3 linked regions of the Homo sapiens genome follow. The protein of the gene in region 3 purifies or fractionates together with the protein of the main gene of each other region. This does not show direct contact. Each region holds a gene or a part of one and is shown on either strand. Other genes may lie near its edges.

Evidence for each region.
Region 1: the proteins of HSD11B1 (region 3) and UGT8 purify together in Homo sapiens (affinity purification with mass spectrometry; 3 studies listed by BioGRID and IntAct, with this or other methods). This does not show direct contact.
Region 2: the proteins of HSD11B1 (region 3) and TMX4 purify together in Homo sapiens (affinity purification with mass spectrometry; 3 studies listed by BioGRID and IntAct, with this or other methods). This does not show direct contact.

Annotation. Positions count from the first base shown.
Region 1 is NC_000004.12:114,662,946-114,673,714, reverse strand, and holds part of UGT8 (2-hydroxyacylsphingosine 1-beta-galactosyltransferase precursor), read right to left. Parts: intron 9,721-10,769; coding exon 9,578-9,720; intron 8,036-9,577; coding exon 7,959-8,035; intron 5,631-7,958; coding exon 5,411-5,630; intron 1-5,410. UniProt on the Homo sapiens protein: Catalyzes the transfer of galactose to ceramide, a key enzymatic step in the biosynthesis of galactocerebrosides, which are abundant sphingolipids of the myelin membrane of the central nervous system and peripheral nervous system.
Region 2 is NC_000020.11:8,014,910-8,026,416, reverse strand, and holds the start of TMX4 (thioredoxin-related transmembrane protein 4 precursor), read left to right. Parts: upstream 1-6,655; 5' UTR 6,656-6,803; coding exon 6,804-6,979; intron 6,980-11,507.
Region 3 is NC_000001.11:209,705,815-209,716,583, reverse strand, and holds part of HSD11B1 (11-beta-hydroxysteroid dehydrogenase 1), read right to left. Parts: coding exon 10,643-10,769; intron 9,876-10,642; coding exon 9,764-9,875; intron 9,642-9,763; coding exon 9,456-9,641; intron 1-9,455. UniProt on the Homo sapiens protein: Controls the reversible conversion of biologically active glucocorticoids such as cortisone to cortisol, and 11-dehydrocorticosterone to corticosterone in the presence of NADP(H).

The sequences.
Region 1 (10,769 bases), on a different chromosome or scaffold from region 3:
CTTTTATTTTAACAAAGATGGAAAAGAAGGATAAAAACAATCTTAAGTCTTCAGGTACCTTAATGTCACTGTGTATATAACCCTTTCTCTAGTGATGATTAAACAGATTAAACAGATGCTTTAATGGAAAATCTCACTTCTTGTACTCTTGAATAAATTATTAACTCATATGGAACTCCAATATGTTTACTTGGTCCTAGATCACTAATTATCAGAAAAGCTCTTGACATCTGACTCAGCTTATCTGAACAGGGACTTTCATCGGTCAGACTCTTAGTCCCACCTAGGAGTAGACTTATAAAGCTGGATTGCTAACTAACCGATTTCATTTTGTATGACTATTCTGTTCAGAGGAGGTCCATGGATCAACTGGAAAGGAATATTGGAGAACTCACAGATAAATTTTTGAGGGGCAGGTATTTTCCATGCTGAAACTGGTCTCAAATTTAATGTAGTGGCATTGTCCCATGAGCATAGTTTATTTTACAACTCAAAATTCCTTCCAGTAAGAATATGAATATTGCAAAAAAATAGTGTGATTAAAAATGGTCACTCCAGACACCTCTAAGTTATTCCAAGAGATCTCTTAGATAAAGCCCCTTTTAATAAAACAATTACCTTGTAAGGGGCTCACATGTACATTAAATTTTACAAAAGTATAAATATCTTCTATTAAAAGTTGACCACAGGTTGGATATGTGCGAAGTTAATAATGATCGATTCTCCATCTTTCTTTCTAACTTATTTTGTAATAATAAAAGCTCCAGACTCAAAGGAATCCTCCCAAACAAACAAAAAAGCAATAGGCCTTTATTAAATGAATCCAAAGCATTAGGAAACAGAGACGTAAGATGTGTAATTTTACTTAAGTTGTGGATTAATAAAAGGAATACTTTTGGGGGGTTTTGTTGTTCTTGTTATTTCTTCTAAAAGAAAATGGAATACATGTGCAGAATGTGCAGGTTTGTTACATAGGTATACATGTGCCATGGTGGTTTGCTGTACCTATTGACCCATCCGCTAAGTTCCCTCCCCTCACCCTCTACCCCCAACAGGCCCTGGTGTGTGTTCTTCCCCCTCTCTGTGTCCATACGTTCTCATTGTTCAAGTCCCACTTATGAGTGAGAACACGCAGTATTTGGTTTTCTGTTCCTGTGTTATGTGCTGAGGATGATGGCTTCCAGCTTCATCCATGTCCCTGGAAAGCACGTTACCTCTTTCCTTTTTAATGCTATATACTATTCCATGGTATATATACCACATTTTATTTATCCAGTCTATCACTGATGGGCATTTGGGTTGGTTCTATGTGTTTGCTATTATAATTGTATTGCAATAAACATACGTGTGCTTGTGTCTTTATAGCAGAACGATTTATATTCCTTTGAGTATATACCCAGTACTGGGATTGCTGGGTCAAATGGTACTTCTGGTTCTAGATCCTTGAGGAATAGCCATACTGTCTTCCACAATGGCTAAACTAATTTACATTCCCACCAACAGCATAAAGCGTTCCTATTTCTCCACAGCCTCACCAGCACCTATTGTTTCCTGACTTTTTAATAATCACCATTCTGACTGGCATGAGATGATATCTCACTGTGGTTTTGATTTGCATTTCTCTGATGATCAGTGATGTTAACCTTTTTTACATATGTTTGTTGGCCACATAAGTGTCTTCTTTTGAGAAGTGTCTGTTCATATCCTTTGCCCATTTTTTGATGGGGTTGTTTACTTCTTGTAAATATGTTTAAGTTCCCTGTAAATTCTGGATATTAGACCTTTGTCAGATGGGTAGATTGCAAAAATTTTCTCCCATTCTGTAGGTTGCCTTTCACTCTGATGATAGTTTCTTTTGCTGTGCAGAAACTTTAGTTTAATGAAATCCCATTTGTCAATTTTGGCTTTTGTTGCAACTGCTTTTGGTGTTTTAGTCATGAAGTCTTTGCCCATGCCTATGTCCTGAATGGTATTGCTTAGGTTTTCTTCTAGGGTTTTTATGGTTTGGAGTTTTACATTTAAGTCTTTAATCCATCTTGAGTTAATTTTTGTATAAAGTGTAAGGAAGGGGTCCAGTTTCAGTTTTCTGCATATGGCTAGCCAGTTTTCTCAGCACCATTTACTGAATAGGAGATCCTTTCCCCATTGCTTGTTTTTGGCAGGTTTGTAGAAGATCAGATGGTTGTAGATGTGTGGTGTAATTTCTGAGGTCTCTGTTCTGCTCCATTGGTCTATATGTCTGTTTTGGTACCAGTACCATGCTATTTTAGTTACTGCAATCTTGTAGTATAGTTTGAAGTCAGGTAGCGTAATGCCTCCAGCTTTGTTTTTTTGTTTTTGGTTGGTTGTTTTTGCTTAGGATTGTCTTGGCTATAGGGGGTCTTCTTTGATTCCATATGAAATTTAAAATAGTATTCTCTAATTCTGTGAATAATGTAAATGGTAGTTTGATGGGAATAGCATTCAATCTATAAATTACTTTGGGCAGTATAGCCATTTTCACAATATTCATTTTTCCTATCCATGAGGATGGAATGTTTTCAATTTGTTTGTGTCCTCTCATTTCCTTGAGCAGTGGTTTGTAGTTCTCCTTGAAGAGGTCCTTCACATCCCGATAGCTGTATTCCTAGGTATTTTATTCTATTTGTAGTGATTGCTGAATGGGACTTCATTCACGATTTGGCTCTCTGCTTGCCTATTGTTGGTGTAAAAGAATGCTTGCGATTTTTGCACAGTGATTTTGTATCCTGAGACTTTGCTGAAGTTCCTTTCAGTTCAATTTTGGGGCTGAGACAATGCGGTTTTCTAAATATAAAACCATGTCATCTGCAAACAGAGACAATTTGACTTCCTCTCTTCCTATTTGAATACCCTTTATTTCTTTCTCTTGCCTGACTGCCCTGGCCAGAACTTGCAATACTATGTTGAATAGGAGTGGTGAGAGAGGGCATCCTTGTCTTGTGCTGGTTTCCAAAGGGAATGCTTCCAGCCTTTGCCCATTCAGTATGATACTGGCTGTAGGTTTGTCATAAATACCTCTTATTGTTTTGAGATATGTTCCATCAATACCTAGTTTATTAAGAGTTTTTTACATGAAGGGATACTGAATTTTATCAAAGGCTTTTCTGCATCTATTGAGATAATCATGTGTTTTTTTGTCTTTGGTTCTGTTTATGTGATAGATTACCTTATAGATTTACATATGTTGAACCAGCCTTGCATCCCAGGGATGAAACCAACTTGATCATAGTGGATAAGCTTTTTTTTTTTTTTTTTTTTTTTTTGAGACAGAGTCTTGCTCTGTCACCCAGGCTGGAGTGCAGTGGTGCAATCTCGGCTCACTGTAAGTTCCGCCTCCCAGGTTCACGCCATTCTCCTGCCTCAGCCTCCCCAGTAGCTGGGACTACAGGTGCCCATCACCATGCCCGGCTAATTTTTTGTATTTTTAGTAGAGATGGGGTTTCACCATGTTAGCCAGGATGGTCTCGATCTCCTGACCTTGTGATCCACCCGCCTCATGCTGCTGGATTCGGTTTGCCAGTATTTTATTGAAGATTTTCACATTGATGTTCATCAGCGATATTGGCCTGAAGTTTTCTTTTTTGTGTGTGTCTCTTCCCAGTTCTAGTATCAGGATAATGCTGGCTTCATAAAAGGAATACTTCTTTTACAGTATTAGTTACTTGGTTTAAACTAGAATATCTCGGACACAATATTAGTGAGGCAAACTAATATTTTCAATAATTATCACCTGTTAAATGTGGAATATTATCACATTGGAAACAAAGATAAGTGACTTCAGTTTATATAATGACTTTTAGCAAAGGACATGCTACACAAATCACTGGCATTTTTACATTGACTAAGACATCTTTCTATGCACAAAATCCTTTCAGTTAAATATTTAAGGTTTTCAAGTTACATGCAGTTAACTCATTATCTGATGTGCATACTTTTGGGAATGATATAAATTTATTCACTGCATTGAATAATCCTTAAATTAAGCACTTACATGTCTTCAATATTCTATAGCTGGAATTTAATTGCCATGTGACCTAAGATTGCAACCTGTTCTTGCTCTGATTCAGCCTGGTTCATGCCTCGCAAAACACAGCTGGACTAACTTCCTGTGAATAACCTAGATTTTTGCTCTTTCCTTTTCATCTGAGCCAATTTCAGCAGTTCTGCAACTGTTTCCCCATAATTCTACTTAGGGCTATATTTTACAAACTTTCCTGAAAGATTGAAGATAGATACATACATACACACACATATATGATACATGCATGATGTATATGTATGTGTGCATATATATATATATATATATATATATGTATATGAAATAACATCATGTTTTGAAAAGCACACCTTTAAAGAAAAACTATAGATAACAGAAGAAGGGATATACTTAGGCAACCCTAGTTATGGAACACATTGCTCCAATGGCAGAGCTGTATCCGACACTGGATCCTTTAAGAGTCCAGAGCATGAAGGTCACCCCTGAGCTCACATAAAGGCAGCATAATGAACTTCAGTTGAATTCAGCATTTTATATGCAAGCTGCATCCTTTTATATGAAATAATTTTTCTTATTATTGGTTGTTCCTTAGAATGTGGCAGTGTTTCTCAAGTGTTTCTCAGTGTTAAGCCATATCCCCTAGGCATAAAAAGAAAAAGCTTATACGCTTCTAATATTTAATGCTATTGGAAATGCAAGGTAAATTAAATATAATATCTACAAATGAAGAAAACTGCTGCTTTGTTTTAAAACTACACAGGCCAGTTCTTCACCCTTTGAGACTCATTGGTGAACTAGCTTAACTCAGGACCCATCAATAATTTAAAAAGCAAAATAAAGATTCTGCTTCATCATTCACCTGAGTAAATAAATCTCCGTATTTCTGCAATACTCAGTGCTAGGGAAACCCAGCAACACCAGGCTTACCATGCAGTACAAAGAACACTGTCTTGGGAATCAGACAGTCCTGGCTTCTAATTTCAACTACAATTGCTGTGTAAGCCAAATTACTCAAGTTCCATGAATATCAAGTGCCTTGCCTCTATAATGTGGATAATAAAAACTGTGATATACAGCTGTTATAAGTATGAAAATGAAATAAAGCACATAACATTTGACACAATGTAGATATCCAAAGATTGTTCCCATTGCAGTTTCTCCCTGTTTGGAAGATCCTTGCAGAATATTATCTGGTGTCATAACATGGCTGGTCAAATGACTGCTGTTTTCATTTTCTAAATAATAGAAAACATGCACAAAGCATTATCACAGGAATCTAAAGGATATTTCCATAATTTGATAATTTATTGACAATCTATTGAAAATAATTGGCTACTGACAATATACTGTGGTATGTAAGTTCATCAGCTTTAATGTTAATTGAAACCTTACCTGGGATTATTGATAACCTTCACTAGTGCTTCATAGAGCTCTTTTTCAGTAACTGTCTTCCATTCTAGCAATATCCCCATGCCTTTTGCCTGTACTCTGGTCATAGTATCATAATGGTCTCCAAAGAGTGGAATTCCCACTACAGGCACACCATGATATATAGTTTCAAAAATACTGTTCAAACCACCATGGCTCAGGAAGGCTTTAATCTTTGAATGCCCTGAAGAAAGATGAAAAAGAAAACAACTTACAACATTATTACTCTACAGAAGAGATTTTCCCAGAAATTCATTAAAAATCGGCACTACAGTAAACATGCATTTCAGATAAAGGATTCCTAAAGGTGTAATTTCACTGATTCCTGCTCTACACCAATTAAAATATTTGTTATATACCTAATTGTCAGATTTTGATATATCAATTAAAAGCCATTTTTAAGTAGTTGAAATGTATATTACTATTTTTAACACAAATATTGCATGACTAACAACACATATTTAAATGGCCAATAATTATTATGAAGCCAATGAAAGCAAGAAATGCCAAACAATACCAGAGTGAAAAAACAGACATCTACTTTCTGGCTACTCAAATGTTTATCAATATTAAAGTCAAAAACACTTTTTAAAAAAAATGTAAAAAAGGGCTGGATTCCAGAAGTCCATGAAGAGTTTGTGTGCTTCTCCAAAAAGAAATGTTGTAATCACTATTCACAACATTCAAGTTCTATCAGCATTAATATTTCACAATTTTAAGGTTTAATTTTACATTTATGTGCTCAAACATGTAGAGGTAAACATTTATAATCATTTGTAAGACATGAGACATCACATAACATTTAGTTGTTATGGGAATAAAAAAGATAATTTGTCAAAATTAATATGGAAGTTCAAAACCTAGATTTACTCTCCTGGTAAATGGCCTACATTTCTATAAAAGGGATCAAAAGTTGGCATAAGAGTTGTAAAAACAAAACAAAACAAAAACATTGTACTTAGGATATATGTTATTGGCCAGAAAGAAATTATAGCTAGCTGAAATGTCGATCTTTTAAAATACACATGTGCCAGGTACAAAATTAATATGTATGGGAACCATGGTCTCAATGGTGCTCCCAGAGCTCTTCCATTCTGAAGACTGGTGGAATTGGTTAGTCAGTGTCTCTAGCCCTTACCCACAAGTGGCTTTTCTGACTCTTAGGTCCAACTAAAGGATCTGCCCTAGAAGTGGATTTCAAACTTTATTTTTAGCAAAAACCCCTCTCTTTGAACAAAACCTACCACCAAACCCAACAGTTAAATAAAGCAGAGCTGCTGTGTAAAGAGGAGGGGCGGCTACGAGGGGAGGGGAAAGACATTGATTTGGTTCCTACTTCTCATCCCGGAAGAATCTTTTGATCATAGTTAGAAGCTATTAGAGGACTCACAAGGATAGTGCCTATTGTTAAAAAAGATACTAATCTTGAAAAAGTCAGAGTTCTCACACTGAGAAGCCTAGAGCAGCTATGGACTTGAGGAGAGTTTTCAGGCATGGACCTTGCAGTAGAGCCTCACAGTCAAAAAAAAGAAAAAAAGAAAAACAATAAGAAATGGAAAACCCACACACAATAAAAGTTTAGATGTTCATACATAACAGTGTCACACTGTCGCACTGAAATAGTTGATAGTCAGGTTATCTCACTTAAACTTCCTGCTTCTTTCCTATCTTCTAAGGAATCTAAGTCATAACAGTAAAGCCATAAAAGATTTAAAAATAAAAAAATACAAGGATCAAGAAAGGTAAATTGCCTTGTATTCTTTTTTCTTTAGTTTTAGCATTTATAGAATAGTATTATAATAAGCTAGATGAAAATAAATTATATACATAAATAAAATTCTTTACTGGTTTTTAGTTAAATTTAGTTAAAAAACTAATTTAGTTAAAAAACACACTTAAAAGATACGCATATACTAATTACTATTTTAATTTTGAGAATCAAAATCCCCAAGATTAAATAATATAAAATGCTTCAAAAATGCCCAATGATTTAGGACTAAACAGAGCAGATAATCCAGTTAAAGTTAAAATAAATTGACTGTTCCCATGGTCTTCTGCTTCTCTTTGGTTTCAGACAAATGAATAACTTCTAATTTCTCTTGGTTCTCAGACCATCTGTAACAAACCTGTAACCTAAATCTACATTCTTATTGTTTTAACTGTTCTACTTTCATCTGATTACTCTAATTAGGTATAATCTTATTCACTACTAATTTATATAGTTCATTAAGTACATAATTTCCAGATAATTAAAATTGATGGCTGGTCTAAAAATTTTAATATAGAGGCCCAAAGGTTTACATTTTACAAACTGTTTTCCAATAAATAAAGACTTAAAATTTTGGCCTCAAATTTAAGATTTGAGATACTGGATAAAAAACATAATAACTCTACCATATACTACATACATACCGTATACCGTATGAACCTCTGAAGTAAAAAAAAAAAAAAAGTCACATTTATGTAATTAAAACCTAACAGCCAAGTAAGTAACCACACATCATTGACTTACCAAGCAGGTCATTTTGTGGTAACCATTCTATGAGTTTAGTGTTGTTTCCTAGATTCTTTGGTTTGGGTCCAGAAAACCTAAAATGTACACCAGACAATTAGTCTTTTAAAAATCAAACCTTACTCATAGTATGGGCTCTCTGATTAAATTATGAGATTTAAAATAAATGTTTGATGATCTTTTGTTGATATTCTTAAGAATGAAACCATGCTTTGGTAACAGCAAATATTTGATTAAGTTTCTTTTTAATAAAAACTTTCACTGGTTGGAGGAAAAACAAGAAATAATTTGCTTACATAGAGATCTATTTTCCATTGGTTCCTCACGCCTATACACATACAGAGATGGGAAAAACAAACAAACAAACAAACAACAAACAAATAAACCTACACTAGAAGTTATTCCCCACAAACAGCCAGAAGCTGGAACAAGAAGGAGCAGGGAGAGCTGCCACTGCTATGGCAGTCAATATCCCTAAATCCTTAACACCCTGAGTCTGAGGGAAGGCAGAAGTATTGAAAAAAATCAGTAAGTTCTCTTCTTTAGCTTCACCAGAAATAAAAGTTTTGTGGGGTGAAGCACATAATTAGGTTGTTTCCTGCCTGATCTTTAAAAGATAAAACAGAAATATGCTTAACAACTAAGAGGGTGACAAAAGAGTCTGAATGGAATAGACATAAACTGTCCTAAATGAAGCAGAAGAGGTACTTTCTGGGGTTAAGCCTAACAGAGGAAACCCAATGGGACTCGAATCTGAAGGGAAAAGTCCTGAACAGTTAGAATAAAATAAATATCACTGCATAGTTCAGCCAGGAGAAGTGGGAGCTAATCCTTACTCATTTGCTATAAAGGGAAAATCTCTATTACTCAAAGCCTACTTGCAATGGCTTAAGGGGCACTTTCTTCCACTCATGGTAGTAACTATGGGACCGACGTTGTATCCCTAGAGTTCAACAGTGGTAGTACGTGCTCAATAAATACACGCTAAATAAAGTGTTCACGTCTGATTTTTCAGCATTGGGCTGGAAATTCCAAAGACAGTCATGTGCTGGCAATGCCTTCCAAAAGAAGCTGGGGTCAATCTATGGTTCTGTCTTAAACCGTGTTAAATGGTACGTGATTGTGTTTTTAAAGGCCAGGTTTCTTAAATAAAATAAATCAAAAACATAATGTAAAGGAGACAAAGTGGGAGCCCAAAAGAGTCCACGGTATTTTAGGTATTCGTTAATCCATCATTTTCTTCCTCATTTCAAAACTGATTTGAAGGAGTATATAAAAAGGCATGCAATTAAAACTAATTTTTAAAATCATAATAAATAATAAAAGAGTAAACGAGGGTAGAACTCTGAGGGAAATGTAAGTATGCATCTGACACAAGGAAAAGTCATTCTGAATCATATCTTCTTTCTGTGCTATATAGGTCAGAGGTTTCTTTAACCATCATAGAGCCTTATGAATTAATTCCTAGATTTCAACAAGCTAAGAAACAAAATGAAAGTCAAGGGCATCTTGCTAATCTTGTCAGGGAAACAATGTGCTGTGCTTTACTGGGACCTGTGCACTAAACAAGGAGATATTGATTGTCAATAGCAAAGAAACAATCTACATTATTACCTTACCTCCAAATCACTTTTTGAGGCAATCTCCCCAGAGCTCCTGCCAGTTTGTTAGCAATGTCTTCTGACAGATACTTGACACCAGCTCCAAAAGACACCAAGACAAAGCCATGTTCATTAGCACCATTTACCCATCTTTGGAGATCCTGTAAATCAAAACATGGCAGTAAGTTTTACGAAGACCAATGTAGTTTATAATTGGTGTTATTAACAGCCCAGTTAAAAAAAAACCTTTTAAGTAATTTTCTTAAACAATTAGAAAGTAAAGGATATGATATTTTCTTCTAAATAACTGCTTTTGTTTACAACATTTCATCTGATAATGCTAACTGAAATGAGGACATGTGGTTTATTTGGTAAGATCTGTAAGTAACAAAAACAACTTAAAAAATCAGTTGCTAAAGGCTTAAAATCTCAGAAAAAGGTCAAAAATTGGAAATGACAACTGATGCATGTTCAGAAAAAAATTTGTATGCAGACACAAACAAAAGATGTGGATTAAACATATGAAAAATCAATCATACTGGCAAAAATTTGTTAATGTATCATTTACAAATTTTTGCCAGTATGATTGATTTGTGTTGAAAATCAAAGCAGTTCATTTTAAGAAATACCATCCTTACTTCATTTTGTTCTATAGGCACAAGCTTGTTTTTAATGATGCCATCCTTTTGAATAAATCTTTGCCAAAGACACCCAGCTTCAGTTTCCCATAGGAAAATAAATAGAGCCACGGCACGTTGAGGAACACATTAATTCCACTGTAAGAATGACACACTTGCTGTGCATTGATGACTCCTATGCCATAATGCAGTCATGAAAGCAGAAGCCTGACCCATTCTGTGTTCATAATGTGTAGAGTGAGCTGCCACAGTTATATCTCATAGACCCTGCAGGTCTCTAGCTCAGGAAGAGTTATTGCCATGCCTGTGTCAGCCATGCTTCTGCATTTGGCACCACTTTGTAGCATAACGTGATTTGTAGCTAAGGAGTACTGCACAATAAGAAGTATCATCACGGCCAGGCATGGTGGCTCACGCCTGTAATCCCAGCACTTTGGGAGGCCAAGGCAGGTGCATCATGAGGTCAGGAGATGGAGACTATCCTGGCTAACATGGTGAAACCCCGTCTCTGCTAAAAATACAAAAAAAAAAAAATTAGCTGGGCATGGTGGCGGGCACCTGTAGTCCCAGCT
Region 2 (11,507 bases), on a different chromosome or scaffold from region 3:
AGTCTCCCAATATCATGTAATCAGAAAGTATAATAAAAAAAAAAATGAAAGGGGGAAATAATTACAAAACGTAAGCTGTTGTGATTTGAGTCCACTGAAGATTTTACAATAACAGCATGGCTAGTCCTAATCACAATTGCTTTAACCCCAAAAGGAATCATCCAACAAACTGTATTGGTATAAAATGTATATTTCTGATCAGCAGTATGTATGAACTGCTTTTCATATACATATGTCATTTGTTTTTTGTTCTTCTATAAGTAATATTCCATATTTTTCAGCTGGTTTGAATATCTTTTTCTTAATTATTTGTAGAACTTTTTGAATTTCAGTGACACTAAACCTTTGAGTGCTATCTATAGTTCAGATCATTTCACCTGGTTTGACTTTGCTTGATGTTTTTTTAATTGTGTGGCAAATTTCCTAAAGCCCTTTTATAGCTTCTGTGTTTCATATGTTACGTAGGAAGGCTTTGCCCACTAGATGATTATATAATTATTTTCCAAACACTTTTCCAAGAGCAGTTTAAATTTTGTGCTCTTTCATTAGTGGATCTAGAACTTATTTTGGATATAGATTGAGGTAGAGATATACTTTTTTTCTTAATGAAGAGGAAATTGTTCTAACACTATTGTATATTAGTCGAATTTCTCCCACTGGTTTGAAATGTCATGTGTGAACATTATTATGTTCATCAATATTTAGTTCCCATGTTAGACCATCTTTTCTTTCTTTTAGGCGAGGTCTTATGATTAGTTCTGGCCAATGGCCTATGAGCTGGATTGCTAGGTGTTACTTGTGGATAAGAAAGAAAAAGCTTCTTGCCGCCTTTTATATTTCTGTGATCATGGAAAAAGTTTCATGTTGCGACAGCAGAGATACAAGATTTAAGCAATGTGTATTGTGTAGACCCTCCCCAAGTTATAGTTTCCCTACAGAACCTCTTCGTCCCAAAGTCAATTTTGCACAAAAGAGAACTTAGCTTTTTGAGTTAAGCCTCTGAGATTTTAGGGGTTGTTTTTTTACTGCTGCCTAAGTCTATCTTATCCTGACTAATATACCACCTTTAACCTATCTAAATACCCGTAAGCGTATGGTTTTGTTTTTTGAGTCTTCATTCTGAACCATTCATTTATTTGCTTCTTCTCATGTCAATACCTCCCTCTTCAATTGTAACTTTATAGCAGATTTTAATATCTAAGAGGGCCAAGACCTACATCATTATTCGTTTTCAAAATCCTGTTGGCTGGTTTTAAGCATTATTTTTAAGGTAGATCTTTAGAATTCTATAGAAGAGAACTTGGTGAGATTTGCAATGGTATTGCATTAGATTTATAGATTTATAGATTAATTTATGATAATTGTCATATAAGGTCCTGCAGTTTTTTCTATGTCTTTTATATTTCTATTAGTTTTTTGAAACATAAGGGTTTTTTTTTGCTATTGAATGAGATCTTTGTCTACATTACATTTTAAAATTAATTCTAAGCAGTGTACAGGAAAATAATTGACTTGTATGTTTCTCTTGCATGTAACTGCTCTTTTCCTCAGCTCATTTATTAGTTCTGAAAATAATTAGATGATTTTCTTGCACCATGACATTGTCCTGGGGTTGCTTCTTAGAGGCTTATCAAGTCTTCTGGATTTGTCTCTAGGCACAAGCCTGGGTGCAATTCAGTGTATTTTCATCATTCATGGTTTCTTCTACCATCTGTTCTAGGAAATATTACTGTGTCCTATTTAAATTCTCCATTCTACCTCTTGTTCCTGTAAGGCATTTAGCAAATCTGTTTGTGTAATTAAATTTTTGTACTATTATTACTTTATGGACTAATTTTACAGCATTGCTTAACTTATTTAATATTTCCATACTGGTTTTACCATCTTCGTTAGGAAAACCATTGTATAACTATACCCTATTATTACAGAGTTTGTAATCTGAATACCATCTCCTTATCTTTCATTGATTATCCTCTTAATATCAAGTCCTGACCTACTTTTATCAAAGGCATTGTCTATAGCTATGTATTAAAATTTTCTACCATTAGAATATAAGTTTTATCCCTCTTGGTAAATCGTTTTCCTACTCCATTATTCAAGGGTAAAATAGGTGTGTTTACATAATTCTCAACATACACTTTTGAATCTTTTTTTCAATAAGCTTAACAAAAATTCTGTAACATTTAATGAACACTTAAATACCAAGGCATCAATCCATCTACCCGCCCACAGGCTTGAAAATCATTTTCTCCAATACCTTTGCATAAGATGCATCTTACAGGACCTACTCACAGAAGGTAAAAACGGAGAGGCAGTTCTTACTCTGCTCTCTGAAAATATCACCTCCCCTCCAAAATAAAGAACTCTCAGCTGTTCATAAATAAGTATTCAAAGGAAGGCAGTGAGTTAGTCAAAATAGGCTAGACTATGCTTCAGTGACAATTCCAAATTTTCAGAGTGGCTTTTTGATAGTATGGCTGCAATTTATTTTGCTGCTTCTTATTAAAGGATAGTCTAATTCCTCTCCCCTTCAGTCTGGTGTGTCTTCAGTGCCTTGACTAATAGAATGAGGTAGAAACGACACTCTTAGACTTCTAGAGCAATGCAGTTTCCACCTTCTGGGAACTCTTGCTCTAGAGAAATTAAGTATGACAGCCCTCAAACTGCCATGCTGAAGGAAGCCGAAGCCAGCCACATGGAGAGACTGCGTGGATAAGAGCAATGCCTGTGCAGTCCCCAGCTGTTCCAGCCAGCCTACACTAAGTGCCAGATGTGGGTGCAAGGGACTTCAACTAATTCTGGCCTCGGCCTCCAGGGGTCTGCCACCATATAAAAGAGTACAAGCAAATATAGCCCAGCTGAGCTCTTGAACCCCCAAAACCATGAGAGGTGAGTTTTGGGATGGTTGATTAGGCAGAAATAGTTAACCTGAATAATCTCTCATAGTGAAAACGTATTTCTTACCTTTGTAAAGTCCTTTTAAGAATCCTGGGAACCACCCAATGCTGCTATTCTCCACCAGGCAGCTCAGCAATTCAGGCTGCTCTGGTCTTGTAGACTCTTAGATCATGATCTTTTCTCTAAAATTTCCACAGCAGGAGAACAGAACACTGGGACATTTTGTGCCGGTGATTAAATACTTCAGCCTGGAAATGATACATACCCACCCCTTCCATTTGTAGCCCATTGGCCAATTCATATAAATATGACTAACTTCTGAGGGGTGTAGGAGCATCCTCCTCTGTGGGGCAGGGAAAGAGAGGGGGACTAGATAGGATCTACCACACTCTTCTTCCCCTCTCTCCTGCTAATGATGTTACCTCATCAGAGGCCTAGGAATTCCTTTGCCTACTAGGAACCACATATTTTTGTGTAATCATAGCTGCCCTGCAGTGCCACCATCACTCTGGGGGAAAAAGCCTTTTCTCCTAGTACCAGGTACCAATCTTCTTAAACCTGTAAATCCACGTTTTAAACATAAACATGGATCACACACTGACCTAGCATAGCATTACAGCATAACAAATTGCCCCAAATCTTAGTGGCTTGATATTATGTAACAACATTGATTACCTCACAGTTTCCGTGGGTGGAGGTCCCAGCTAAGCTAAGCTTTGCCCCCTGGTTCTGGGTCATTTATAAGGCTCACCCGTCTCAAGAGCACTGGTGACAGATTTGCTTCTAGGTCACTCATGTGGTTGTTTGAAGATCCAGTTCTTTGAGGGCTGTTGGGCTGAGGTCTCAGTTGCTTAGGCTGCAGACCTCCCTTGTCACATGGAGCTCTCCACACAGAGTCGCAGAGTGAGTGTGCAAGAGGAAAAGAAGTTTCCAGCAAAATGGAAGTCTCAGGTTTTTGTAACCTTAACAAAGAAGTGATAATCCATCAGTTTTCCCATCTTCTGTTAGAAGTGGGTCACCAGGCCCAACCCACACTCAAGAGGAAAGGATCACACAAGGGCCTGAATACCAGGAGGGAGAGATCTTGGGAGGAGTGCCAGAAGCTGTCTATCCCAAGTACATCTATGGGATGGGTATTCTGCAATACAGGGGACACAAAGATATATAAGGTAAAGCCCTTGACCTTGAAGAGTTTTTAGTAGTGGTTGGAGGAGTGAGGGTAGAGGGTGATAGCTACATATAAATGCATTATACTATGAAAGGTATGTGGTGAAGTTATTGTATTAGTCCATTTTCACGCTGCTGATAAAGACATACCCGAGACGGGGTAATTTATACAGGAAAAAGTGTTTATTCAACTCACAGTTCCTCATGGCTGGGGAAGCCTCACAATCATGGTGGAAGGCACGGAGGAGTAAGTCATGTCTTACGCGGATGGCAGCAGGCCAAAAGAGAGACAGCTTGTGCAGGGAAATTACCATTTTTAAAACCATCAGATCTCATGAGACTTATTCACTATCACGAGAACAACATGGGAAAGACCCGCCCCCATGATTCAATTATCTCCCATGGGGTCCCTCCCACAACACGTGGGAATTAGGGGAGCTACAAAATGTGATTTGGATGGGGACACAGAGCCAAACCATATCAGTTATACAGAAGAGCAATTGGATCTGAGAAGAGACAGCAGCTCATTCTGCATGAGCTATCAGAGGTACAGTGTGGACTACATGACAGAGACTGAATGATTCACTGGACAACTGGAGAAGAGTGTTCTAATCAGAATGAAGGAGCAAGGAGACACTGAAGTACACAATGTGCTTTGGGAATGGGGAGTAGCTTTGTGTTACTAGGACACAGGGAACTCTGGGAATAGTGGAATGTAAAGTGGGCAAAACTGAAGCTGGGCTGTGAGAGGCATTGTGTATCATGCTAAGTGAAGTTAACTTTAGTATAAGAAAAATAGACATTACAGCGTATTGTTGCCTCCAAATAATAATATTAGTGTTGGCAATATTGTGGCAAAAACCACAATTATGTTTGCACCAACCTAATATGTAAGCTTTTTGAGTTAGAATATGTGCTAGGCATTATTCTTATCTCATATAATCTTCACAGCCACCTTTTGGAGCAGGTTCTATTACTACCCGCATTTTAAGAGAACTTTGGTGTGGACTAGTTTTAGCCCCAAATCACATGGCTAGGAAGTGTCAGGGCTAAGATGCCAATCATGGTCTGACAGCAACAGGTCCCTTACCCTGGTCTGTGACTCCTTACGGCAAGGTCAGTCCCATACTTCCTTGCTACTTTCTTCCTACCATCCTTAGTCTGAAGGCTAAGACTTCAGTTTTTGTTAAAGATAGGAAATGCTTTGGTAATGGCTGTCTTTCATGCTGAAGATGCTCTCTCTCCTTTTAGCTTTTCATTTTGTAAATTTTCCAACATATGCATGAGTAGGTAAAGTAGCAAAATGAACTTAGCTTCAACACTGACTGATGTTGCACCACTTTTCTTTCACCTATCTTCTTTCCATTCCCTACATTTTATTTCTGGAGCATTGTAAAACAAATTCTACACATCATTCTATCATGAAAGTGATAAAATGACAGAATTCCTGTTTATGAGTCACTTCTTTTTACAAGCACAGTAAAATGTTTTCCATTGAGTTTATGGAATTGATATGTATGTACTTAATAACAGTGAGTCTTAGTAGCATTCATTGCAAAGACATTTTCTTAAATTTCAATAGTTTGTAAACCCTTGAGTGTTTTATTTTAATGATAAGGGCTAGGTCCACATAGTTTTTAGCTAATACTAATTAATGCATAATGCAGGCCAGATCTTCTCTTCAGGCAAAATTAACTTCCCTCTCCTATAAGTATTGATTGAAATTTGCTCTCATGTGCCCTGAAGTACTTTTAGTCTTATTGCTGTCTTTGTTTTAAGCCGAGGGCAGAAACCACATCCTTTTCATGGTCTATTAACCACATTACCGAGGTTCATGGTTTGCACAACTAGTAAACACATACAAAGCACCCTTTGAGAAAGCTTCCTCATCCTTTAATTGTAATCCAGTCTTATATATTAACGGTGTGGTGGTCCCAAGGTACAGATTCATCTAATGTGACCTGGAAAGAAATTTGGAAATCACTTAAGGCTACCCTCATTTTAGATCTGACAAAACTGTAGTCAAGAGAAATGTGAGGTCCATTTTACTGCAGGTGGCAATAGTCTTAATTGACTCATTTTATCGGCTAGTACCCATGTTTTTAAGAGTTTCTATGAAATTAACATTTTTTGTAAAAAAAATGCAATTGCATAGGCTAGTTTCATCAATATCCTAAATTAGTGATGCTTCAATATACACATGCAGAGTACTTAAATTTTCCTCTCTCTTCAGCAGGAGATACTCACCACGTCCCTCCATTTTTCATTAAACATACGTGTACCTTGCAGCCCGTTGCTTTTATATTTGCTATCATTGAAGAGGGGATGGATTTTAAAATTACTGGCCATGTTTCCCTTTAGAGAAGCCCACACGCGCCAACCCTGCCCTTATTGGAGCCTGGGCAGCAGCGGTGCATGTTCTAACTTAGGCAACGTTGGGTCATCTGTTTATTGTCAGCTTGGCGGTCAGGAAGAAAGGGCGGTGGTTGCTGAGGTAACCGACACCCCGGGCAACGGCAAGTGGAGGCGGGAGGGGGCGTGGCCTCGACGGGCAAGCGGCGATAAGAGGTGGCGTCCTCCGCGGCATTGCGAGCACCGCCAGTCTGCGCCGCTAGGCGTAGGCGGGGTGGCCCTTGCGTCTCCCGCTTCCTTGAAAAACCCGGCGGGCGAGCGAGGCTGCGGGCCGGCCGCTGCCCTTCCCCACACTCCCCGCCGAGAAGCCTCGCTCGGCGCCCAACATGGCGGGTGGGCGCTGCGGCCCGCAGCTAACGGCGCTCCTGGCCGCCTGGATCGCGGCTGTGGCGGCGACGGCAGGCCCCGAGGAGGCCGCGCTGCCGCCGGAGCAGAGCCGGGTCCAGCCCATGACCGCCTCCAACTGGACGCTGGTGATGGAGGGCGAGTGGATGCTGAAATTGTGAGTGTGCCCGCCCGCCCCGGACGCCGCAGTGTCCTCGCGGGCGTCACCCTCCCAAGCCCGCGCGGCCCGGTGGCGATCCCGCATTGCCGCTTGGGCTCAACCTAAAACCCCGGACCAGGCTTGCCAACAACCTGCGGCGCCGGTGCCGGGCCGCTTGCGATCCTGCACTGCCGCTGGGCTCGACCTGGGGTCCGCGGACCCGCCTTACCAACGACCTGCGGCTGTGGGGCCCGGCCGCTCGCGCCGCGCATGCGCGCCGAGCCCTCGCGGTGACAGCCGAGGGTGCAGCGCGTCCCCTTGCTTTGGGGGACAGTGTTTTCGGGGTGGAGTGGGCAGCTTCCCATAGGGAGGAGAAGGGAAGGAAGAAAATCTGCAAGCAAACCGTGTGCTTTTAGATACAGATATGTATTGGAAGAGAAAGGACATTCAGTGACATCCACGTGCAGTATGAATACGTAGCACAGGCTAAGCAAGTTACCTGTTGAAGAAATTGCAGCACGGTGAAGGCAGGCCATTTGTGTCGTAGTCTTCCGTTTGAAGACCTGGAGATGTCATTGTGAGAATAAAACATAAATATGGATGCCTTTTAAATTTTACAGTATGATTTCAAATAAATGTTGATACTTATTATAACTTGTAAAGGTAGGACTTTCTGAGTAATATTAATAATTGTGCCATAAAGAAAAGAAGATACGCATTGCCCCTTTTAACAATAGAAAGCAAATGGTGGATAGTGCCTTTTCTTTAAGGAGATGGGAAACTACAGTTTTGAGTTAGGAGAAAGAAAGGGATTTGTTGATTATAGTTTAACCTTATAATAGGAAGTGACCATTTGAAAGAGGCTTGCAGTGGATGGTGGGCAGATGTCTGAGCGGGCTTGAGAGACCATCATGGTGGGCTTGCAGACTCTCTCTCTCTCTCTCTCTCTCTCTCTCTCTCTCTCTCTCTCTCTCCCCCTCCCTCCCTCCCTCCCTCCCTCCCTCCCCCTCTCTCTCTCTCTCCTCTCTCTCTTCTCTCTCTCTCTCTCTCCCTCCCTCCCTCCCTCTCTCTCTCTCTCCTCTCTCTCCTCTCTCTCTCTCTCTCTCCCTCCTCTCTCTCTCTCTCTCTCTCTGTCTCTCTCTCCCCTCCCACAACTCCTTTCCACCCTACCTGCCCCCCTCCCGCCCCCACCCCCCAAACATAAAATCTTTCAGGAAATTGCCACATCTCTTTAGCCTGTGGTTTCTGGCAATCTGTATACTACTATTGAATCTTTGTTTTACGTTGAGGACACAGACAGAAAATTGGATCTTTCCTTTATCCAAGACCAAGTTTTGATTCTTTCAATTTAAATTGCAAGCAGGTGCCTATGGAGTGAAAACCTCAGTGTGAGATCAGAGCCAAAATTTATGTCACACAGCAGATTACATTGCTCGAAGAACATAAGGCATATCACCCCTTCAAATGTGCATTTACCTCTTAGTCACAAAGAAGGGGATATTTTAGACCTCCAAATGAAATACCCTTGGTATCATAATAAATCAATGAAATTATTAAAGGGAACTGTAGACATGAATTATTAAAATATTCCACTTAACTATTTTTGGAAGAAGGTGAGGGGGTCATATTCTATTTGAGAAACTTTTAAAATAAGTGGAGCTGTGTTAAGACTTCCATGTTTGTAATAATTTTAAGAGTTTGGGATAAACTGCATTTTGTCAGCCAATACTACAGAAAGTTCTCTTTTCAGTAGGTGCTTACAAAATGGACTTTTTCCTAGATGTCATCTTTCAGGGTAAAACTGAGTTTGCATATGTATGTAAGAAAAGTTAAAACAGAAAGGCCTCCTCATTTTTAATGACTTCAACTCCTCTATGGTTCCTTTTGGAATTGCTTTTTTTTTGGTAATAGAATTAAGAACACTAAAGCCTCAATAAGTTTTTGAGGGAGAGCCAACAACATCTGTGCTTGGCCATGTTGATGGTTCAAATTTTACTTTTTTATGAATGTATAAACCTAAACATAGTAATCAATTGCTCTGAGTTTGTCATGTGTCCAGTTGTATGGAATATGCTTGGCCTGTGATGCCAGATGAGTCTTGTAATCTGGAAGTAAGCTGTGTAGACACAAGGTCATTTTAGTAGACATTCTCTTTTTATCGAGTGCACTTCAGAATAGGTGGCTAGGAAGCAAGGCTGTCAATGAAAATTGATCCAAACCATTCCATCCAACTTCTTTATACGCACTAAAACCCAAGTGCTCATCCTGAAGAAATATTTTGGTTCTTATCTATTTGTGATCTATTTTTTTCTGTATTATCAGGTGATACTCCTCCTCCTTGCTGTGAAAAAAACTCCAGTACTTAAAAAAATATAAAATTCATTATATCCTCCATACCACTAGAGGCCTGCTATGAATTTCTAAGAATTCATTTAAATAGCCTATACGTTACCAGATTTTTTTTTTTATGTATATAACAGAGAAAAACAAAATGCATTAAAATTAGCTTCATCTTGACACTTAGTTCAGATGAGCTGGTCATACATAAATGGAAATTGTTAGTAGTTCAAAGATGTTGTAGTTAACTTCTTTAAAGAAACAGATTGAGAAGCTTTTGTTGTAGTTAACTTCTTTAAAGACACAGATTGAGAAGCTTTCCGATATCAAAATGTATTCATTACTTTGAATGAGAGTTCTTTATTTGTTCATTTGCTTATATGCGCTCTTTCATCTGGGAATTTTTTCTTTTATACGCCACGTCATACAGATCCCCTCTAATGCAGTTTCTGGTTATATTGGTATAGATAATTTATTCTTAAGAATCTAGCAGTATTTGGCAGCCCTGAGACATGAAAAGCTTCTATTATGAAATTAAATTTGGTTATTTTTTCTTAGTCTTTCAAACAGTCAATTTTTTGGATTCTTGCAATTGAATTTCCAGTGTTTTAAAAATGTATGAGTTAAAAGTATATTTGCAGTAATTCACCGTTTCTATTCTGATGATTTTAGAAATCTGAAAAGTTCTCCCATTGCTACATACATTTTCTTTAATGCTATGGGCTTATTGTTGTTATTATTATTTTTTAGATGGAGTCTCACTTTGTCGCCCAGGCTGGAGCGCAGTGGTGCGATTTCAGCTCAGTGTACCCTCTGCCTCCCGGGCTCAAGCAATTCTCCTGCCTCAGCCTCCCAAGTAGCTGGGAATACAGGCACCCGGCTATGGGCTTATTGTATACTCGTTTGCCCTTTTTCTGAATTAGGAAAAATGATCTAATCTTTAAACTACTGTATGATGCATGCTTTTCTCTATTGCCATTGTTTTATACTATTCTTCATTCAGTTCCTTTGCAACCTTTTGCTACTTTCAACATTTGCTTGGCTCTCATTATGTCAGTCCTGGAGAAAATGACTTTTGTTCTTTTGAAACATGGAAGTATGTAATATGATACATTCTGGTGGCTTTTTCCCCCAGAAGAAATAGATAGCCAAGTGGCTTAATTTTGACATTCAAGCTGATACTCAGAAGAAAAGTATGTCTTTGGGTTAGTTTACCTCTGTAAAGCATATAAATCTTTATAAATTATTGCCTTTTCTTATTTTTGTTTTTGGAATGATCATGTTTCAAAATTTAAATTAAACACCTGGTGATGGAGCAAAGCTTTGTTTATTTCCATAGGACATCTAGGTTTTAGTATTATCTTTCCAGCCTTCCTTTATACCTGGAGAGAATGTGTTGAACATCATTACCTTAACTTGCCCATGTCAAGTTAGAATTTCTTGCAGTTTAATAGATTGTCTTGATGTCTTGATGGAATGTTTGAGAGACAACTCACTAAATGCTTGTGTGTCAGGTTCAGTGTTGGGGAGCTGGGAAGGTGAAGAAGAATGAGCCTTCCAAGAGATTGTGCTCTGAAGGAAATATGTAGTATAAGTTATGTTCATTTATTTAGTAAATGTTTAATGAATGCTTCCTCTGTGTTGGACATTCATCAGTGCTTCCCAACAGGACACTATTGGCATTTTGGGTGGACAGTTCTTTGGTGTGTGGGAATGGCCCACGTGTTGCAGAACCTTTGGCATACTTGCCCATTATATTCTAGTAGTAGTCTCAGTCATGCGACATCAAAAAATTGTAACTCCCATTCCCTGTGCATACTTCCAAATGCTTCTAATTGAAAACCACTGCTCTAGATACTGTTATGGGTATTTAAAAACATGCGAATGTTTGATTTTAGATGGTTTCCACAAAGGGTTTAAAGCCTCATTAAAACTTGTCATCCTTACCACTTCCATCCACCTCCTCCACTTCCTCATCATCACAATCACAGTTCATAGTTACATGGCTTACATCACATGTTCCAACTAACTGTTTTATTTGATCATTCCAGCAATCTAGTGCGGTATTATTCCCATTCTTACTGACTAGTGGAGATAAAAAAAAAAAAAAGAAAAAAAGAAGCTGGCTAATGCCAGATCCTTAGTAAGTGGGGAGCAAGGCCATAACTATAATGCAGGCCTGAGCTTTGCAGTTTCTGATCTGCAGTTC
Region 3 (10,769 bases):
ATTTTAGGTTTTTTTTTTCTATTTCTATGAAAAATGTCATTGGTATTTTGATAGGAATTGCACTGAATCTATAGATTGCTCTTGGTATTATGGTCATGTTAACAACATTAATTATTCTAATCCATGAGCATGGGATATATTTCCATTTGTTTGTGTCCTTTTCCATTTCTTTAATGGGTGTTTTATAGTTTTTCCTGTAGAGGTCTTTCACCTCCTCGGTTAAATTTATTCCTAGGTGGTTTTTTTTTTTCTGTAGCTATTGTAAATGGTTTTTCTTTTTTTCAGATTGATCGCTGTTAGCATATGGGGACACTGTTGATTTTTGTATGTTGATTTTGTATACTGCAACTTTACTGAACTTGTTTATCAGTTATAAGAGTTTTTTTGTGGAGCGTTTAGGCTTTTCTGATTATAAAATCATGTCATGTGAATGAGTGAAAATTTGACTTCCTGTTTTCTAGTTTGGATGTCTTTTATTTCTTTCTCTTGCCTGATTGCCCTGGCTAGGACTTCTCGTACTGTGTTGAATAAGAGTGGTGAAAGTGGGCATCCTTGTTTAGTTCCAATTATTAGAGGAAAGGTTTCCAGTTTTTCCCCATTCAGTATGATGTTAGCTGTGGGTCTGTCATATATCCTTTGCCCATTTTTGAATCAGGTCATTTGTGGTGTTTTTGGTTGTTGTTGCACAGGGTAGTACTTTGAGACTATGTAAATACCGTCTTCCTTGTTTAACTTTTACCCACTACTTTTAGCATCCTTTGTTGCTTCCTGGCTGAATTATTACAATTATGGTTACCAAATGGTGATTTTCTAAGTTCATCATTTCATATCAGTTGGCTTTCCACTTCATGAAAAATCCTTCCCCTCTCTTGATTTATTTATTCATGCATTTATTTATGACTTCATGGACTTATTTCCTATTGTTGCAATGGGTGATAATCTGTTACTACTATTTGTTTTGATGCCTCAATGGTTCTAGGTTTGGCTAGTGGGATCCCTTTAAAGTTGGCCTCTGTGTCCTGGTAATGTGTGCCTATTATCCTTTGAGCAGTTCTGTACTTACTGGCAGAACAAGATTTTCAGGCTTATCTTGTACCTTTCTTGCCACTGCCCTGGAATCAGTCATTTCTCTAAGAAGCCTTGGTGGTTTGTTGTTGTTGTTTTTTTTTTTAGTGGAGAATGATATTTAGAAAACAAGATCTGGGCACCAAGTGTGCTCCCAGGTCCTGTCAGTGGACAGAGTGAGTGAATACATGCATGTATATGTAGACACACATCTATATTTATATATCTGTCCTTGTGTATTAAACAACTATTAATTCATACCCACACTTCCAATTGCAATCCAACACTAGAGGATTCATTCTCATTTTCTTCCTTTTCATATTTGTAACATTGATAGTGAGAACCTGGGGCTTCCAAGATCTGCAATATGTATTACTTATGTGATTAATGCTCCTGTATGTGATCATTCTTCATTTGGCCTCTTCATCCCACCTAGGTTCTGACACCCCAGTGCCAGGCTACATGAATGCCTGGTGAATGCCTTCTTTACCCTATGTCGGGCTGCCCATGGCAGGCCCTCTTGCAGATGCTCTCATCACTCCCCTTAGTTCTGATGCCCTGTGCCAGGTGCCACATGAAGAGCCTCCTTGGCCCACTTAGGCTCTGAAACTTCACACTAGGCCACCACTGCTGCCCCATGTGAGGATGCCATCCTCATCTCACTCAGTCTCTGATGTCCCAAACCTGCTCTGTGACACAAACCTGTCCCATCCTGCTCAAGTTTTTCAATCTGTGCTGCCACCTTCCTCCCCGGTGAAGATGCCTATCTTGCTTGGCCTCTATGAGTGGCTTTTAGATTGAATTATTCAGAGCCAAGGATGCTAAAAAATGCTCGACAATGCATCAGACAGTCCCACACAATGAAGAATTGTCCCTCACCAAAGGCCAATAGTATCCTTATTAAGAAGCCCTGACACGAAGGCCTAGAAACAGAAAGGAAATATGGAGGGAAAATATGACTGTGAGTCTCCAACACAGTTTAAGGAAAGACATGAAGCCAGAAATCCAGGTACTAGCAAGCTATTTTATCATTTGTTCATTCAAGAAGAATGTGTTGATTATTTGCAAAATTTGTTAGCTCCAGGGAATCAGAGATGAATGAACAATGTGCCTGCCTTTAAGGAGAGCACAGCCTAATCACTGTGAGTAAAATGCTGTATTTCAACAGCTTTCAGAGGCAAGCAGTTGTAAAACATACTACTATTTTGTATACCAAGAAATAAAAACCCTTCCAATAGATCTGTAACATGATTTTTATCCCTTAGAGTGTTTGTTTTATGTTTGTTGCTACTTAGGTTGTTTCTAGTTTTTGTTTGTTTGTTTGTTTTTACAACTATAAACAATACAGTAACAACTTGGCTTACACTAGAATGTGGGTGCACAACAGGTATCTTGCCTTGGCCTTCTTGCTCCCTGCCATAGCCTTGGCATCTGGCATAGTGCCTGACTCAGAGTTGACCTTCATGCATATTTTTTGAATGAATGAATGAATGAGTATATTTGGGAAGCACTTGTTCAAGTTTGTTTATAGAATAAACTTCTCAGACATGAAGTTATGCTCTCTCTCCCTGACCATTCCTCTTGAAGTACTTAAGCAAATTTCTACTTATGGAAATCAATATAGGCAGCCCTCTGTATCCATGGATTTTGCGTCTTTGGATTTAAGCAACCATGGGTTAAAAATATTCAGGAAATAATTTTGTGTCTGTATTGAACACATACACACTTTTAAAATCTTGTCATTATTCCTTAAATAATACAATATAACAGCTATTTACATAGCATTTACATTGTATTAGGTATTATAAGTCATCTAGAGAGGATTTAAAGTATCCAGGAGGATGTGCCTAAGTTATATGCAGATACTATGCCATTTCATACAAGGGACTTGAGCATCCATGGATTTTGGTATCTGTGGGAGGTCCTGGAACCAATCCATTGAAGAAATTGAGGGTGTGTGTATATGATTATATTTAAAAGAAGGAAGCACAGCAAGAAGCAAATAATTTCTGAAATGAATTTCTCATAAAAGGTTATGAAAAGAGGCACAAAGCAATGGAAAAAACAACACACCCAACAACTTATTGAAATGTTTCTATGATTATAAAAGTTACACATGCATGCATACACACACAATGAAAATTTGGAAAATGAAGAAAAATATGAAGCTAAAAACAAAAATCATTCATTGTTCTGTAATTTAGATATAATCATGCTAATATTTTGGAAAATGTCCTTCCAGAGATATAGATACAGCTATGGATACAGATACAGATATAAATATAAATATATAGTACAACTAGTTATTTTCCTACTGCCAGACATTTAGGTTACTTCCAATGTTTTGCAATTTAAAAAATCCTACAACAAATGTTTTTGTACCTAAATCTGTGACTAATTTAATAGCTATTTCCTTGATATATTCTTGCACTTAGACTGGGTGAAATAAAGGAAACATTCTTTTTTTTTGAGATGGAGTTTCACTATATTGCCCCAGTCTGGAGTGCAGTGGTGCGATCTCGGCTCACTGCAACCTCCACCTCCCAGGTTCAAGCGATTCTCCTGCCTCAGCCTCCCAAGTAGCTGGGACTACAGGCACCCACCACCTCGCCCGGCTAATTTTTGTATTTTTGGTAGAGACGGGCTTTTGCCATCTTGGCCAGGCTGGTCTCAAATGCCTGACCTCGTGATCCGTCTGCCTTGGCCTCCCAAAGTGCTGGGATTACAGGCGTAAACCACTGCGCCTGGCCAAAGGAAACATTCTTAAGGCTTCTGGTACATATTTCCAAATTACCTTAGACAAAATGACAAATAAAGACCTAGACTTTAAAAAATACACAAAAATAAACAATTAAATGAATATAAGAATCATGCATTTTTCCTACTCTGAGTACAGTCATCTCTCAGTATTCAAAGGGGGATTGGTTCCAGGATCTTCTGTGGATACCCAAATCCATAGATACTCAAGTCCCTCATATATAAAATGATGTAGTATTTGCATATTACCTATGCACATCCTCCTGTGTACTTTAAATCATCTTTAGATTACTTATAATACCTAATTTGGTGCCTATGCCTTATATCATTTCTGTGAATTCAACATAGTACCCAGCATGTAGCAAATTCAAGTTTTGCTTATTAGAACTCTGTTAATTTATTTCCCCCCATTTTTTTTTGATCCACATTTGGTTGAATCCACAGATGTAGAACCCAGGCATGCAGAGTGCTGGCTGTACACTGATCTTGTCCTTTTTCTTTTCTTTTTCTTATTGTTAAGAAATTCAAGTGCCAATATTGAAGCTTAAGCACAGGATCTATACTGAGTCTAATTTGGGCACATTTATATTCTCCTTTTCTTAAGACCTAGTTTTCTATTTGTGTTTTTCCAAATAGAATGTATTTGTTGTAAGCCTTCTCAAACTCCTTGGTAAGGAAACGTAAAGATACAAATGATGGTAGAACCTTGCTATTTCCATCCACAAGTGCACTTGAATGAAACCTGTGGTCTAGCAGGGATAAGTAACCTCAACTACCTAAGTTCAGCCGAGCCTTTCCAGAAAAGAACATGAAGCAACAATGATTACGGGTAGCATTATATTATTCTCAACCTGCACTAAATTGTCACTGTCTTCATCAAAGAGTCTTCCTCCCTTTCAAATCTCCCCCACTCCTTTCTTTTTGGGGCTGATGCAGAACTGAATTCCTAGATAAATCTAGCAGATTCTGTCTCAATCCTCACAGTGTTGCCCAAACACGATCTCTTAAATTTAGACAACAATGATTATATTTTATAGAATAAATTTTCTGGAATTTTTATGCCCAGGTTGCTGATTTTACTCTGATCTCCTTCTTGGCATTCTTATAGGCCCTATGGATGACACGTCTACACAAACACATACCTCACCTCTGCGTACTTCTACCCATCCCCCCAACACACAGCTCAACCCTGTGCAGCCATCGCCACTCCCCATCCCTCATGTAAATGCTTACGTTCACATGGATAAACACTTCCACTCACCTCAGAAATCCTGGTTCCTGAAGATTATTTCTGAGGTAATTGGATTTAAGGGTAAAGCGGCATTTTTTCTTAGAAAAATGAGAACAACTGTGGCAAGGGATAAATTGCCCCTTTCCACTCTGGTTCTGAGGCCCGTTCATAATCTGGAGTTTGGGATCCCCCCACCCCCAATAACCTGAGGCACAGCTATACATTGAAACATTGGCCCACCTTTCAGGAAGGAGTGGGTATGCCAGAACTGAAGGCAGGGATGACATTAACATCTGTATATCCTTGTCTATGCAAAACATCATTATAGGTCTTCCAAGTCCTGTTAGTTGATATGTGTAGTTGAAAAACCTGTTTTTCTCCCCCCACTTCATAATGTTGAATTTTTGAAATAGATTTAGACCACACAGGCAGACCTCCACTGACAAATAGGTTAAGATCCAGCAAGTGACTTCATCTGTTGGTTTGAGTTTTCCCACAGAGCACTGTCTTATGAATGTTTGCCCCCGGCTAGTCAACTCAACTCAAAGTGCCTGAAAGACTGCACACGTACATTAAAAAACAGTATGAAACAATGCTGCGAATGAGTAAAACAGGAAAGGAATACATTTGAATAAGACTATCTATATATAGGGAAAGTTGATTTTTTAAGAAGATTTACTTGGAGAAAAGTGAATAGTTAACTGGAGACACTTATGGAGCTTCTCAAGAGAAGTCTGATTCAAAGGTTATTGACAAGGTTCTTTTATTCCTTCTGATCTATTTTCATTTTGAATATTTAAAGCAACTGAGTCTTTTGTGATGTCCAGTTTCACTTCAAAATATACCTTGCATTTTCCTTGATCCAGAAGGATTACTATCCCTACACGTATGCTTGCCGAGTATGTTTAACATTTGTGTTATTAGTAGTTATGAGTAGTATTAGTAGTATTTGGATTACCAATAAACCCAAAAAAGAGAAATGATGAGGAAGTTGGATTTCTAAAGTTAACTTACCAAAATATAGTAGATAAAGACAAAGAAGAAACATTGAAATGGCTCTGGTGAGTTCTGAAAAAGACTTCATAGGAGGTAGGGGGCTAAGTAGATTTTGAGAGGAGAAAGGAGCAGAGGAAGACAGGGTTTGTCCGTGATTCCTCTCAGGGGCATAAAGCAGGTGGAGAAATGGCCTTAGATGCTCAGTTCTAGCTGCCATGTGTGCAACTGATGACACACACCACAGTGATGGGATTCACCAAGCCCAGGAGCCCGAAAATGAAACCAACTTTACTTTTCTAATATTGAACCTAAGATGACCTATTTTGACTAATGTCAGATAAACTTTTTTCCAGATGTTTTCAAATGTTCTCTGCCCACTCCAGTGATTTTTTTTAGTCATATTCAAGTATTAATATTTCTACTTTGGTTTGTTTCACAAATGCTATTTAGGTATTCTCTTTCCATTCTTTCTCCTACCCCACTGTCCCCTGCACGCACTGCCGGATGGAAGGACTTTGTTTTTTGTGATGGACCTTGAATGTGAGAGGGAATGAGTCTTTTGTGTGTGTGTGTGTGTGTGTGTGTGTGTGTGTGTGTTTCACATGTGGGATGGCCTGGAGGGTATACTTTTTTCTAGTCTTATGTGTTTTTTAGCATGGGTGATGTGGGAGAGATTGCTAGTTGTTTATCAATATCAGTGTCTTTTACACAAATAGAACTTCTGATTTTTAGTTGGACACATGTTCCCTTTGAATAAAGATAACAATTGCAGCCAGCTGTGGCAGAAGAAAAGTGTACACCTTCCAGGTGGTATCCTTCTTTTTTCATTTTCTTGAGTTAGAATTCAGACATGCCAATGAGCCATCTTGGACATGCAGGTGTAAACAAGCACTCTAGGAATGGTGGTTCTGAGATAGAAGGCCTCCTGGACAGCCTCATAGGACAGAACTACCATATCAGCCCTGGACTGCCTTTCCAGGGTGTTTTGTGTGAGATAAATAAATTTAGATTTGCTTAAGCCATTGTAAATTCGGGTCTTCGTTACAGTAGCTGAACTTACATCCTAACTAGCAAGTGGTGGAAGGAGAGGAGGCTAATCAATGTAACGGGATGTTACACATACAAGAAACTTGCTCAATAGGTGCCAAGAAAAGGTGGTGAATAGTGGATAGATGTGGACTACAAGGAGGTTCCCAGAAGCAGCAGTATTGTCTCTGTTAATGCTACAGAGGTAACCAAGCCTTTAAGGAACATATTAGAAGTATAGTATTCCCATGTAATGCAATACCCAGAAATGCATTGTGGAGAAAAAACAATTCTTTATCACTGAAACTCAATAAACAACTTAAGGTATTCCCTAGAAGAAATGATTAAAACTCCATCCCAGTACTGTTTGGCTGACCTTAAGATCAACTTGATGTTTAGCATCCCATATTTATAGAGTTTAGATTTTAAAGAGGAAGGATTAATGAACATGTTTACTGACTGATTAAAAGAATACATCATAAAGCAGAGAATATTCTTCAGTTGCGGCAAGACAGCAATGTGTCTGTACTTTGCAAGTTCATAGACAGGTTTCAAGGCAAAAAAGCTGGAATCTTTTGGCTACACAAGCAATAAACACCAAAGATACTCATCCAGCTAGATTTCCTACCTCCCAGAGTTCATGGAAATTACCAAGTGTCATTCAATAAGTGTAGGAGATATGGGGAAACAGAGATTATCAGAATTTCATCACGTCCTTGGGCTCAACAGTAATTCTTAGTCCTTCTGAGCACATTTAGATCATGGGTACATTCTAGAAAGTTACATTCGTCAAAGGTGAAATACATCCTTTGCCTAGAGTGAATGTATTATTTAATCAGCTGAAATCATTAAAGCCACCTACATCATGACTGATGTGAGGATTTTGTCCAATGCCCTGGGATGGATTGGGGATGTGCCCAGCACCCTCCCACTCAGTATGCATCTGGAAGCTCTCCCTTTCTTCCAGCCCAGAGAGAGTCTGTGTCTGGGGAGGGGTGGGGAGTGTGTGTTGTCTGGGAAGCACCGGGATGCATATCAATCACACTGTTTGGCGGGTAGCACAGACACACTGCCCCTTTATCCAATCACTATGCAGGCCGTCCCTGGGCCAGAAAGGAGAACTCTTTACGATACAGATGGTGCTATTAGTTTCAATAAGAATGTTTGTGAAGTGCTTAACAGTTTACAGAGTCCTCTAGGTTATTTGTTTTTATTTTGCCAGGAACAACATTTAGATGGCGGATTTTGATCCTGGTGTTTGCACTTTCCAGCCACATCCTTCTAACTGACTAATCAACAAAGATGTGTGGAACTTGTCTCCTGGATCTATGATAAAAATGGGCCTAGAAATGTCCCAAGCTGGGAACTCACTGGTTTTTTACTGGTGATGGCTTCTGATGCTACCACCATCCAGAACACCAGGGACCTCTCTTGATCCCACAGATATCTTTTCATGACCATTTCTCTGGACACATTTCCTCCCTACCCAGCTGGTTGTTTAAATTGATCTTTTCATGTTAACATGTTCAAATTTTAGAGAATACACCCACTATAGGCAGGTCTGTTCATCTTTTTTTTTTTTCTTGTTGTTCATTTTATTTAGCTTTAGCTTAGCCCACTTATCAGACACCTGTGTGTTGTTAAAACAGTTAACTTCTCAGTTGTACCTTCACATTTACATAACTTCACCAACCTTTTGGTCATGGAGGAAGCAAAGTCCTTTTTATCCATTGTGACTAGGTCTCTCACTTAGGACCAGGACAAGCTGTACCTCCAGCAGCCTCTCAAGTCCCTTCAACCTTCCTTTGTAGAAAACAATTCAGGCTTCCAATAGGCACTCTGAACTACTGCTTTTTCTCTGCTACTTAAAAGAATTTTGTAGCCCATCTACCTTGACCAATCCTTCATTTTTTATGGTGTCACTAGTTTGTAACAGTGTCTCCTTTACTCAGGATGCGTGCCTCTCATTGAGTCCACAAATCACCCCCCTACAAGTCTCTTATCAGTACATCTGCCCATTCATGCATATGAGTAAGCTGTTAATCAGCTTTTGTTTAATATTACTATGAACATTTCAACTTCAAGTTAATATTGTAACTAGGTCTCTCCCTTAGGACCAGGACAGGCTGTACCTCCAGCAGCCCCTCAAGTCCCTTTGACCTTACTTTGTAGAAAACAATTCAGTCTTCCAATGAGCACTCAGAGCTACTGCTTTTTCTCTGTTACTTAAAAGAATTTTGTAGCCCACTTACCTTGACCAATCCCTCATTACTTCTCTGCATGGAAACTGATAAAAATTTATGTCTACTTCAGAGCCTGGCATCATCCCTGGCATTTTTTTTTTTCTTCTACCTTCCACATATGTCCCTGTCCCACTTACCAGCCAGAGAGGAGACGACAACAATGCTTCCATTGCTCTGCTTCAGCATGGGCAAGGCAGCTACAGTCAGGACCACGTAACTGAGGAAGTTGACTTCCATGCTTTTGCGCACATGGTGAATATCATCATGAAAAAGATTCAAAGAAGTGTTGGTGATGTGGTTGAGAATGAGCATGTCTAGTCCTCCTGCAAGAGATGGCTATATTAAGAAATCATCTGGGGTTGATACCTTTCCCATTCTCCTCCCAAAAGCTCTTGGTGACCCCAAGGGCAAAGTTCAGAGGAGGAGGTAAGAGAAACAGCCTCACCCATGAGCTTTCCTGCTTGGGCAACAAATTGCTCTGCGAAGGTCATGTCTTCCATGGTGCCAGCAATGTAGTGTGCTGAGGCTGCTCCAAGCTCCAGGCAGTGGGATACCACCTGCAGTGATACAGCAGAAATGGCATCAGTCTTAGCTGCAGATTTTTGGGGGGTAGTCTCTGAAGTAACGGGGGGCTTAAATGAGAGATTGCTCACAGCCCTGTTTAGGTAAGAAATGGTAAGTATGTTTGTGTGTGTGTTGCCTAATATAACCCTCATGATCATCGTCCTCTGTCTGAAATATTTTCTGGAACTTGGTGGGGTTCAAATGGATAAATCATCCCAGTGCTGGGGTTTAAGTTCATGATTTATGCTCATGGCTTCTGTGAATAGGCATTTCTGAGGGCATTATGAGTGTAGATGCTGGTTACTATGTGGGTAGCTCTAGGTTTGTGAATGTTTGTACATCCTTGGGTTTGTGAGTCCATGAGAGGGCATGTGTCTGGGAGTCTGCATGGGTATGAGGATATGTATTCATAAGCAGGTACTGGGATTTCAGTTTTTGAAAACATCCGTATGTATCTGTAGTTCCATGTGTAAATGTGTGTGACTAGGCATGTCTGTGAGCATATATAACTCAAGGACTCTGTTGCAGAATATATTACACACACACACATGAATGAATGCTTAAATGCATACTTTTATATTCCTGTGGGTTTTTTGGTGTTTGAATCTATATATGAGAGTGCAAAATTAAGTGTCTGTGTGTGTGCATGTGCCTCTGTATATAGATCTGCGATATGCTAGCTTCTGTGTATATGTGAGCATATATAAGAACACATCTGAGCATGTGACGGTACACATATCTGCGAGCATAGAACCCTCACCTTCTGTAGAGTTTCTTTTGACCTCGCTGTCACCACCACATGGGCTCCCATCTTCGCCAGATGATAAGCCATCTCTCTTCCGATCCCTTTGCTGGCCCCTGTGACAATCACTTTCTTTCCTTGGAGC